2 linked regions of the Homo sapiens genome follow. The gene in region 2 interacts genetically with the main gene of each other region. Each region holds a gene or a part of one and is shown on either strand. Other genes may lie near its edges.

Evidence for each region. A genetic interaction does not mean that the proteins touch.
Region 1: of SNCA (region 2) and SIN3A, changing one suppresses a phenotype caused by changing the other (phenotypic suppression), as found in Homo sapiens cells (one study listed by BioGRID).

What each region holds. Positions count from the first base shown.
Region 1 is NC_000015.10:75,368,879-75,371,690, reverse strand, and holds the end of SIN3A (paired amphipathic helix protein Sin3a), read left to right. Parts: 3' UTR 1-2,312; downstream 2,313-2,812. UniProt on the Homo sapiens protein: Acts as a transcriptional repressor. Corepressor for REST. Interacts with MXI1 to repress MYC responsive genes and antagonize MYC oncogenic activities. Also interacts with MXD1-MAX heterodimers to repress transcription by tethering SIN3A to DNA.
Region 2 is NC_000004.12:89,723,433-89,729,218, reverse strand, and holds the end of SNCA (alpha-synuclein), read left to right. Parts: coding exon 1-25; intron 26-2,558; coding exon 2,559-2,591; 3' UTR 2,592-5,120; downstream 5,121-5,786. UniProt on the Homo sapiens protein: Neuronal protein that plays several roles in synaptic activity such as regulation of synaptic vesicle trafficking and subsequent neurotransmitter release.

The DNA of each region.
Region 1 (2,812 bases), on a different chromosome or scaffold from region 2:
TGCACACACCAGCAGAGCTAAGACTGGAGTCTCCTGTGGCCTAACTTTCAATGAGGGAACCGGATGCTGTTCACACTTTGACTGGATGGAGATGCATTTACAAAACAGACTGGAGAAGGACTTAATACTCAGATGGATTGGAACTATCATGGTCACTGCTCCTCTCCCCTCCCCACAAAAGGAAAAAAAAGCTGGATTTGATTTTTTTTTTCTGGTCACTCGAGCACATCTAAGATCACCCATTAGGTTTTATCTGGGACCTGCAGTTTGGCTTTGGGATTGATCATCTTGTGGATTTTATTCCTGACGATTCCCTTGCTGCCTACCCTTTTCTCTCCTCTGGTTCTCAACCTCAACGAGTTCAAATCAGTTGTCCTTTTTAGCTCCCGTGGAACTGTTTTGTATCTGCCTCTTTACTAGTCTACCTTAGTGCCATCCACCAGCTTTACTCTCTGACACACACACGCACACACACACACAATTTTAACTTGTTTTTTTGTACATAATGTACATACTGTCAATTTTTTATTAAAAGAAATATGCTTTGATGTGCTAGCATAACTGCTCTAGCTTCTTGTGTACCATAGTACTGTGGCTTCAGATTTAGTACCTATGAACAGATGTACAAGACATTTATTACACTTTTTACCAAAGGGAGTTACCATTGTAGTACTTTTGTGTAAAACTTGTCTTCCCCTTTGCCCCCAACTTTTTTTTTTTTTTTTTTGTAAATAAATAAAGCTTGGTTCTTACTTAAGGAATAAACTCTCAACCCACGTCCCTTGTCCTCACCAGAAAATACTGTGAAGCAGGGATTTTGACTTCAGTTCCTTATCCAGGGTAGAAACAGGATTTTGCTTAAAATACTTGTTACTTGTCCCAAATCAAAATATTCCAAAATCTTAGAATACTTAAGTCTTTTAGTACGTGTTTTTTTCCCTTGTTCAAATAATCTGAAAATATTTTATATTTGGGTAAGTTGTCAAGCTATGTAGTTTGTATTTCTATATATTTTTTCTTATTCACATTGGTGATGGATGGGGGTGAGCAACTTAAATACCAAACCAGTGTTTGAAAAAAAAGTGTGCATAAGGCATGTGGTATACCTTATAAATGGAGTTGGGAGGGAGAGAATTTGAAATGGGATACCTATTTTTTTAATTACATAAATTTAAACTAGCAGACATTTAAACATGAATGATTAGGATTTTTCTATGTGGTTAACCTGGACTTTCTGAACAAAGACCAACTGAGCCCCTCCCAGTACTCTGGTGGATTTTTCTTCAGCAACCATTACGCAAGTCTTAGTTGTAACCAGCAATGTTCTGTGTGTTTTATGTTTGCTTTTTAGTTAAAAATCACCACCACCACCAAAAAGAAAAACAAAATTTTTTGGCTCCTGGATTTTCAAAACACATGGTAGACCTCTCTGATTTTAGGCTTTTATTGTTTAAAGACAGTGTCTCGCTTTATGACCCACACTGGAGTGCAGTGCCACGATCATAGCTCACTGCAGGCTTGACCTCCCAGGCTCAAGCAGTCCTCCCACCTCGGCCTCCTGAGTAGCTGCATGCCACCACGCCCAGCTAATTTTTTAACTTTTTGTAGAGACAGGGTCTTGCTATGCTGCCCAGGTTGGTCTCAAACTCCTGGCCTCAAGCTGTCCTCCCACCTCGGCCTCGCAAAGTGCTGAGATTACAGGTGTGAGCCACCCTGGCCTGATTTTAGGCTTTTTTTGTACTGGGGAGAAGAGACTGTGAGCCAAAGTGTAGGGTGCCAAAAAGAGCTTTGTGGGATGAGATTTTAGGGCAAAGCTGGGGCAGTGTCTGACTTGGCGGTGGTCATGTGTACTGATTTAGGGGAAAGATCTTGAGGTTTTCTCAAATAATTCACCTATCCCCGTGTTCCCTCAAGAAAGGTCATGTTGACCTGGAACCATAGGGGAAATTGGTGGGGTGTGATCAGGGTCAGCCCCAGCTGTTGCTGCCCCTGCAGTGTTTTGTCCAGAGCACTTGCCTGCAGGTCAGGATAGGATTTCAAGGCCAGTTCAGGAGAAAGTCCCAACCCACCAGTGCAACCAACAAAAGAGTAAGTTTTACCTACAGCCTGGGTTTTCACAAGTAGCATTTTTATTCCTCCTGCTGTCTGACATCTGAGCTCCAAGCTCTAAACCCAACCTGTATTATATGCAGCAGCAGGTTATCTTTGTTTTAAATCACATTTGTTATTCTGTACTTAGTCACCTTTCCGTGTGATCTGCATTTGAAATGTTGTAAACTTGGTCAGTATTTCCATTAAAATATCAGGGCTAATCTTGTGTATTTTTTTTTGTTCCTAATGATTTTATAGACAAAGACTCTTGGCAACCCCAGGAGAAAAAAAATAAAGCTGTCAGTGGAGTACTAGGGATGAGAATGAAACTGGAGGTCTGTTTCTGGTATTATGGCTTCCCGGGACTCTACAGTCCTGTATGGTGAAATACATTTTTCCATTGGGATCGTCAATGCCATGACTGTTCTGCCACCTCAAACTCCAGAGTTTCTGGTGATGTGCAAGAGTTAGCAATATACATTCAGTAAAGCGTGTAATCGAGTAAGTCGTAGTAACTTGGGCGTAAAGCTCTACCACCCTGCTCACTAACACCCTGATCTCCGTCCGGTATGAAAACACCTATTCCGGGTAGTCTGGCTCCACGTTAAGCAAACACCACTTTCCGTGTTCACCGACAGCTAGAGCCAGAGGTCTCCCGGTTGCTGCTTCTGAGGCTGGGTCTGCAGCAGCTGAGGCTCCCGCCTGTCTTGCCGAATGGCCT
Region 2 (5,786 bases):
TGAGGCTTATGAAATGCCTTCTGAGGTAGGAGTCCAAGCTGAATCTTTCTAACAAGACAGTACCAAAAACCTGTCATTGTCACATTTCTCTTTCATTAGTGCTTAGTGAGAATCATTTGCTCTCTACATGCTCATTACGTGGACAACTTGCAAGTTAAGAATAGTTTTTACATTTTTAAAGGGTCCTTAAAAAAAAAGAGGAGGAGGAAGATGAAGAAGAGGAAGAAAGGATGTAAAAGAAATCATATGTAGTCCACATAGCTTAATATACTTACTACTTGACCCTTTACAGGAAAAGTTTACTAACCCCTGCATTAGAGAATATATTTTTAGAAACTTTACATTCTAAAATAAATTTCTAAATGGAAAGTTAGGGAAATCAATGGAATGCCAAAGGAAGGTTATTATTTTTTGCCATACATGTCCAATGGGATGACGCATAGTAAAATAAAAGTTACCCACACAAGTTATAGAATAAAAAGATAAATGCATGATTTGCGACAATTGATATATTCCAGTATAATGTTTTAAACAACACAATATGATTGTTAATTTTATTTTGATTGAAAATGAAAGTATCTTTAATAGAAAATGTATCAAAAGGGAAATTAGAAAATACTGTTAGATGAATAAAACTGGCCCAAGAAGAAACAGTAAATCTGAATAGATTTGTAACACAGCGAATAGATTAAATTAGTAATAAAAAAAAAAACCTACCTGCAAAGAAAATCCCAGGCCGAGATGGCATCACTGGTAAATTCTACCAAACATTTAAAGAGGAATTAATACTAATTAGTTAACACCAATTAATATCTCTTACAAAACAGAAGAGGAGACATTTCCCAACTAATTTTGTGAGACCAATATTACCCTGATAATCAAAACCAAATGAAGATATCACAAGAAAAGAAACTATATAATGGCTCCATTAAAAATTGAGTTCAAGTATGTTGTAGTTTGGTTATGTATTATTCCTCACGGCATTATTAAAAGGCATGTCGAGGATGGGCACAGCAGTTCACACCTGTAATCCCGCACTTTGTGAGCCAAAGTGGCCAGGTTACTTGAGGCCAGGAGTTGGAGACCAGTCTGGCCAACATGGTGAAACCCCATCTCTACTAAAAATACAAAAATTAGCCGGGCATGGTGGTACACGCCTATGGTTCCAGCTACTTGGGAGGCTGAGGCATGAGAGTCACTTGAACCCAGGAGGCAGAGGTTGCAGTGAGCTGAGATGGCACCCCTGCACTCCAATCTTGGTAACAGAGCAAGACTGTCTCACACAGACACACGAAAGGCATATTGATAATAATTCAACTTATAGAAATTGAGATTAAATTGTTTGTTTGCCTAATAAGAATTTCCAATATTTTGGGGTCTTTTATGCAAGACACAGTACTAAACACAATGGAAAACTATAGAGTAATTGACATTACCAGGACATAAGGAGTTTACAGTCTGGTAGGTTTGATGAAAAAAAATAGAAATTCATTCATTCATTTCTTCATTATGATTCCTTTAACAAACATAATTGATTGTCTTCGATGTACCAGGCATCACAGGAGCAAAAATATATAAGACATACTAAAAAGTAAAACATTTTAAAGATCTGTTTCAATCAATCAGGAGAAGTTTTATTGAGGAGGTAATGTTGATCTGGGTGGGAAAAGGTAAGAGATATAGTAGGTCAAAACAAACAGAGGACATTCTGGCACAAGGGAATATCAGAAGCAAAGGCATGTATGTCTGAGCATGCAAATGGATATGTCTGAGAACAGTGAATAATTATGACTCAAGCTTAGGAACAAGGAAAATGGTGATAGATTGAATTTGCAGCTATGGGTCAAAGACAAGTTATAGAGTATTAGGATAATCTTGTCATTTCAGCTTGTATTCTATTCAGAAAACAACTTGAGTTATTGAAGTTATGCTTATTTGTTTGTTTTTAAGCAGAATCCTGATATTATTAGAGTTGCTCTTTAGGAGGAATAATCTGATCCCTTTAATTAAATCCATTAATATTTGTGTTGTGGATGCTATCCAGATACTGTATGGAGAGCTTGAGGTTTGAAATACAAGTAATAATTGAAGCCATAGATGAAGACGAAATTTTCAACTGGGAGAGTGAAAGTAGGGAAAATGTATCTTGCCTTCAAACATCTTAATTTCCTTCTGAGAATTAGAGCATCTTAGTCTGGAAAAGGCTTTATAGACAGCTTGATTTTGTTCTCACATTTTACAGGTGAAGAAACTGAGAACCAGACAGTCCAACTTATTTGTCCTACCAAACTAGGTATATGATCATTAAATGGTGCATCCGGATCAGAACCTAGATATTTTAACTCTGACTACTACTGTAATTCACTTTTATATCAGACAAGAAAGACACAACTATTAAAAATAAGATAATATTTGCTGCAGAATATTTGCAAAAACATTGATTGTAAATTTTAGTGTAAGTGGGGAGCCATTTCCTATCTCATTGGCTGTCAGTGCTGATGCGTAATTGAAACTTATACTAACAGTGTGTGCTGTCTTTTTGATTTTTCTAATATTAGGAAGGGTATCAAGACTACGAACCTGAAGCCTAAGAAATATCTTTGCTCCCAGTTTCTTGAGATCTGCTGACAGATGTTCCATCCTGTACAAGTGCTCAGTTCCAATGTGCCCAGTCATGACATTTCTCAAAGTTTTTACAGTGTATCTCGAAGTCTTCCATCAGCAGTGATTGAAGTATCTGTACCTGCCCCCACTCAGCATTTCGGTGCTTCCCTTTCACTGAAGTGAATACATGGTAGCAGGGTCTTTGTGTGCTGTGGATTTTGTGGCTTCAATCTACGATGTTAAAACAAATTAAAAACACCTAAGTGACTACCACTTATTTCTAAATCCTCACTATTTTTTTGTTGCTGTTGTTCAGAAGTTGTTAGTGATTTGCTATCATATATTATAAGATTTTTAGGTGTCTTTTAATGATACTGTCTAAGAATAATGACGTATTGTGAAATTTGTTAATATATATAATACTTAAAAATATGTGAGCATGAAACTATGCACCTATAAATACTAAATATGAAATTTTACCATTTTGCGATGTGTTTTATTCACTTGTGTTTGTATATAAATGGTGAGAATTAAAATAAAACGTTATCTCATTGCAAAAATATTTTATTTTTATCCCATCTCACTTTAATAATAAAAATCATGCTTATAAGCAACATGAATTAAGAACTGACACAAAGGACAAAAATATAAAGTTATTAATAGCCATTTGAAGAAGGAGGAATTTTAGAAGAGGTAGAGAAAATGGAACATTAACCCTACACTCGGAATTCCCTGAAGCAACACTGCCAGAAGTGTGTTTTGGTATGCACTGGTTCCTTAAGTGGCTGTGATTAATTATTGAAAGTGGGGTGTTGAAGACCCCAACTACTATTGTAGAGTGGTCTATTTCTCCCTTCAATCCTGTCAATGTTTGCTTTACGTATTTTGGGGAACTGTTGTTTGATGTGTATGTGTTTATAATTGTTATACATTTTTAATTGAGCCTTTTATTAACATATATTGTTATTTTTGTCTCGAAATAATTTTTTAGTTAAAATCTATTTTGTCTGATATTGGTGTGAATGCTGTACCTTTCTGACAATAAATAATATTCGACCATGAATAAAAAAAAAAAAAAAGTGGGTTCCCGGGAACTAAGCAGTGTAGAAGATGATTTTGACTACACCCTCCTTAGAGAGCCATAAGACACATTAGCACATATTAGCACATTCAAGGCTCTGAGAGAATGTGGTTAACTTTGTTTAACTCAGCATTCCTCACTTTTTTTTTTTAATCATCAGAAATTCTCTCTCTCTCTCTCTCTTTTTCTCTCGCTCTCTTTTTTTTTTTTTTTTTACAGGAAATGCCTTTAAACATCGTTGGAACTACCAGAGTCACCTTAAAGGAGATCAATTCTCTAGACTGATAAAAATTTCATGGCCTCCTTTAAATGTTGCCAAATATATGAATTCTAGGATTTTTCCTTAGGAAAGGTTTTTCTCTTTCAGGGAAGATCTATTAACTCCCCATGGGTGCTGAAAATAAACTTGATGGTGAAAAACTCTGTATAAATTAATTTAAAAATTATTTGGTTTCTCTTTTTAATTATTCTGGGGCATAGTCATTTCTAAAAGTCACTAGTAGAAAGTATAATTTCAAGACAGAATATTCTAGACATGCTAGCAGTTTATATGTATTCATGAGTAATGTGATATATATTGGGCGCTGGTGAGGAAGGAAGGAGGAATGAGTGACTATAAGGATGGTTACCATAGAAACTTCCTTTTTTACCTAATTGAAGAGAGACTACTACAGAGTGCTAAGCTGCATGTGTCATCTTACACTAGAGAGAAATGGTAAGTTTCTTGTTTTATTTAAGTTATGTTTAAGCAAGGAAAGGATTTGTTATTGAACAGTATATTTCAGGAAGGTTAGAAAGTGGCGGTTAGGATATATTTTAAATCTACCTAAAGCAGCATATTTTAAAAATTTAAAAGTATTGGTATTAAATTAAGAAATAGAGGACAGAACTAGACTGATAGCAGTGACCTAGAACAATTTGAGATTAGGAAAGTTGTGACCATGAATTTAAGGATTTATGTGGATACAAATTCTCCTTTAAAGTGTTTCTTCCCTTAATATTTATCTGACGGTAATTTTTGAGCAGTGAATTACTTTATATATCTTAATAGTTTATTTGGGACCAAACACTTAAACAAAAAGTTCTTTAAGTCATATAAGCCTTTTCAGGAAGCTTGTCTCATATTCACTCCCGAGACATTCACCTGCCAAGTGGCCTGAGGATCAATCCAGTCCTAGGTTTATTTTGCAGACTTACATTCTCCCAAGTTATTCAGCCTCATATGACTCCACGGTCGGCTTTACCAAAACAGTTCAGAGTGCACTTTGGCACACAATTGGGAACAGAACAATCTAATGTGTGGTTTGGTATTCCAAGTGGGGTCTTTTTCAGAATCTCTGCACTAGTGTGAGATGCAAACATGTTTCCTCATCTTTCTGGCTTATCCAGTATGTAGCTATTTGTGACATAATAAATATATACATATATGAAAATATGTATTTGGTTTCTGCCTCCAGTTCTTACAAAGAGCTCCTAAAACCCTTGTAATTTCCTGAGTAGTAGGGGTGCTAGGGTCATCTTTTGTTCTAATATTTGGTCTTTGACTCTGCTTTCTGACAGAGCTCCTTAGTCCCTGGGTGAGAGTAGCATCTTCTCTTCTAATGAAGTGACTCTTGCTGGGTTCCTGGATGGGGGCTGGTCACCAGAAAGGTCAAGCCATGATAAGAAGCTTGAAGCTTTTGGCCCCATTCACATCTTCTGGGGACGGGAGAGAAGAGGAGCTGGAGATTGAGTTAATAAGCAACAATGCTTCCATGATGAAGACTCCATAAAAATCCCTAAAAGACAGGATTCAGAGTGCTTTGAAATAGGTGAACATGCAGAGGTGCTGGGAATTGTGGTGTGTCCAGAGAAGGCATGCAAGCTCCCCACGCCTCCCCCATACCTTTCCCTGTGCATCTCTTCCATCTGGCTGTTCCTGAGTTGTATCCTTTTATAACAAACTGGTAATCTAGTAAGCAAACTGTTTTCCTGAAGTCTGTGAATCACACTAGCAAATTATCAAACCTGAGGAGAGGGCCGTGGAGACCTTGGATTTGTAGACAAGTCAAACAGAAGCTATGAGTAACATGAGGACTCATTGCTTGTGATTGTCATCTTC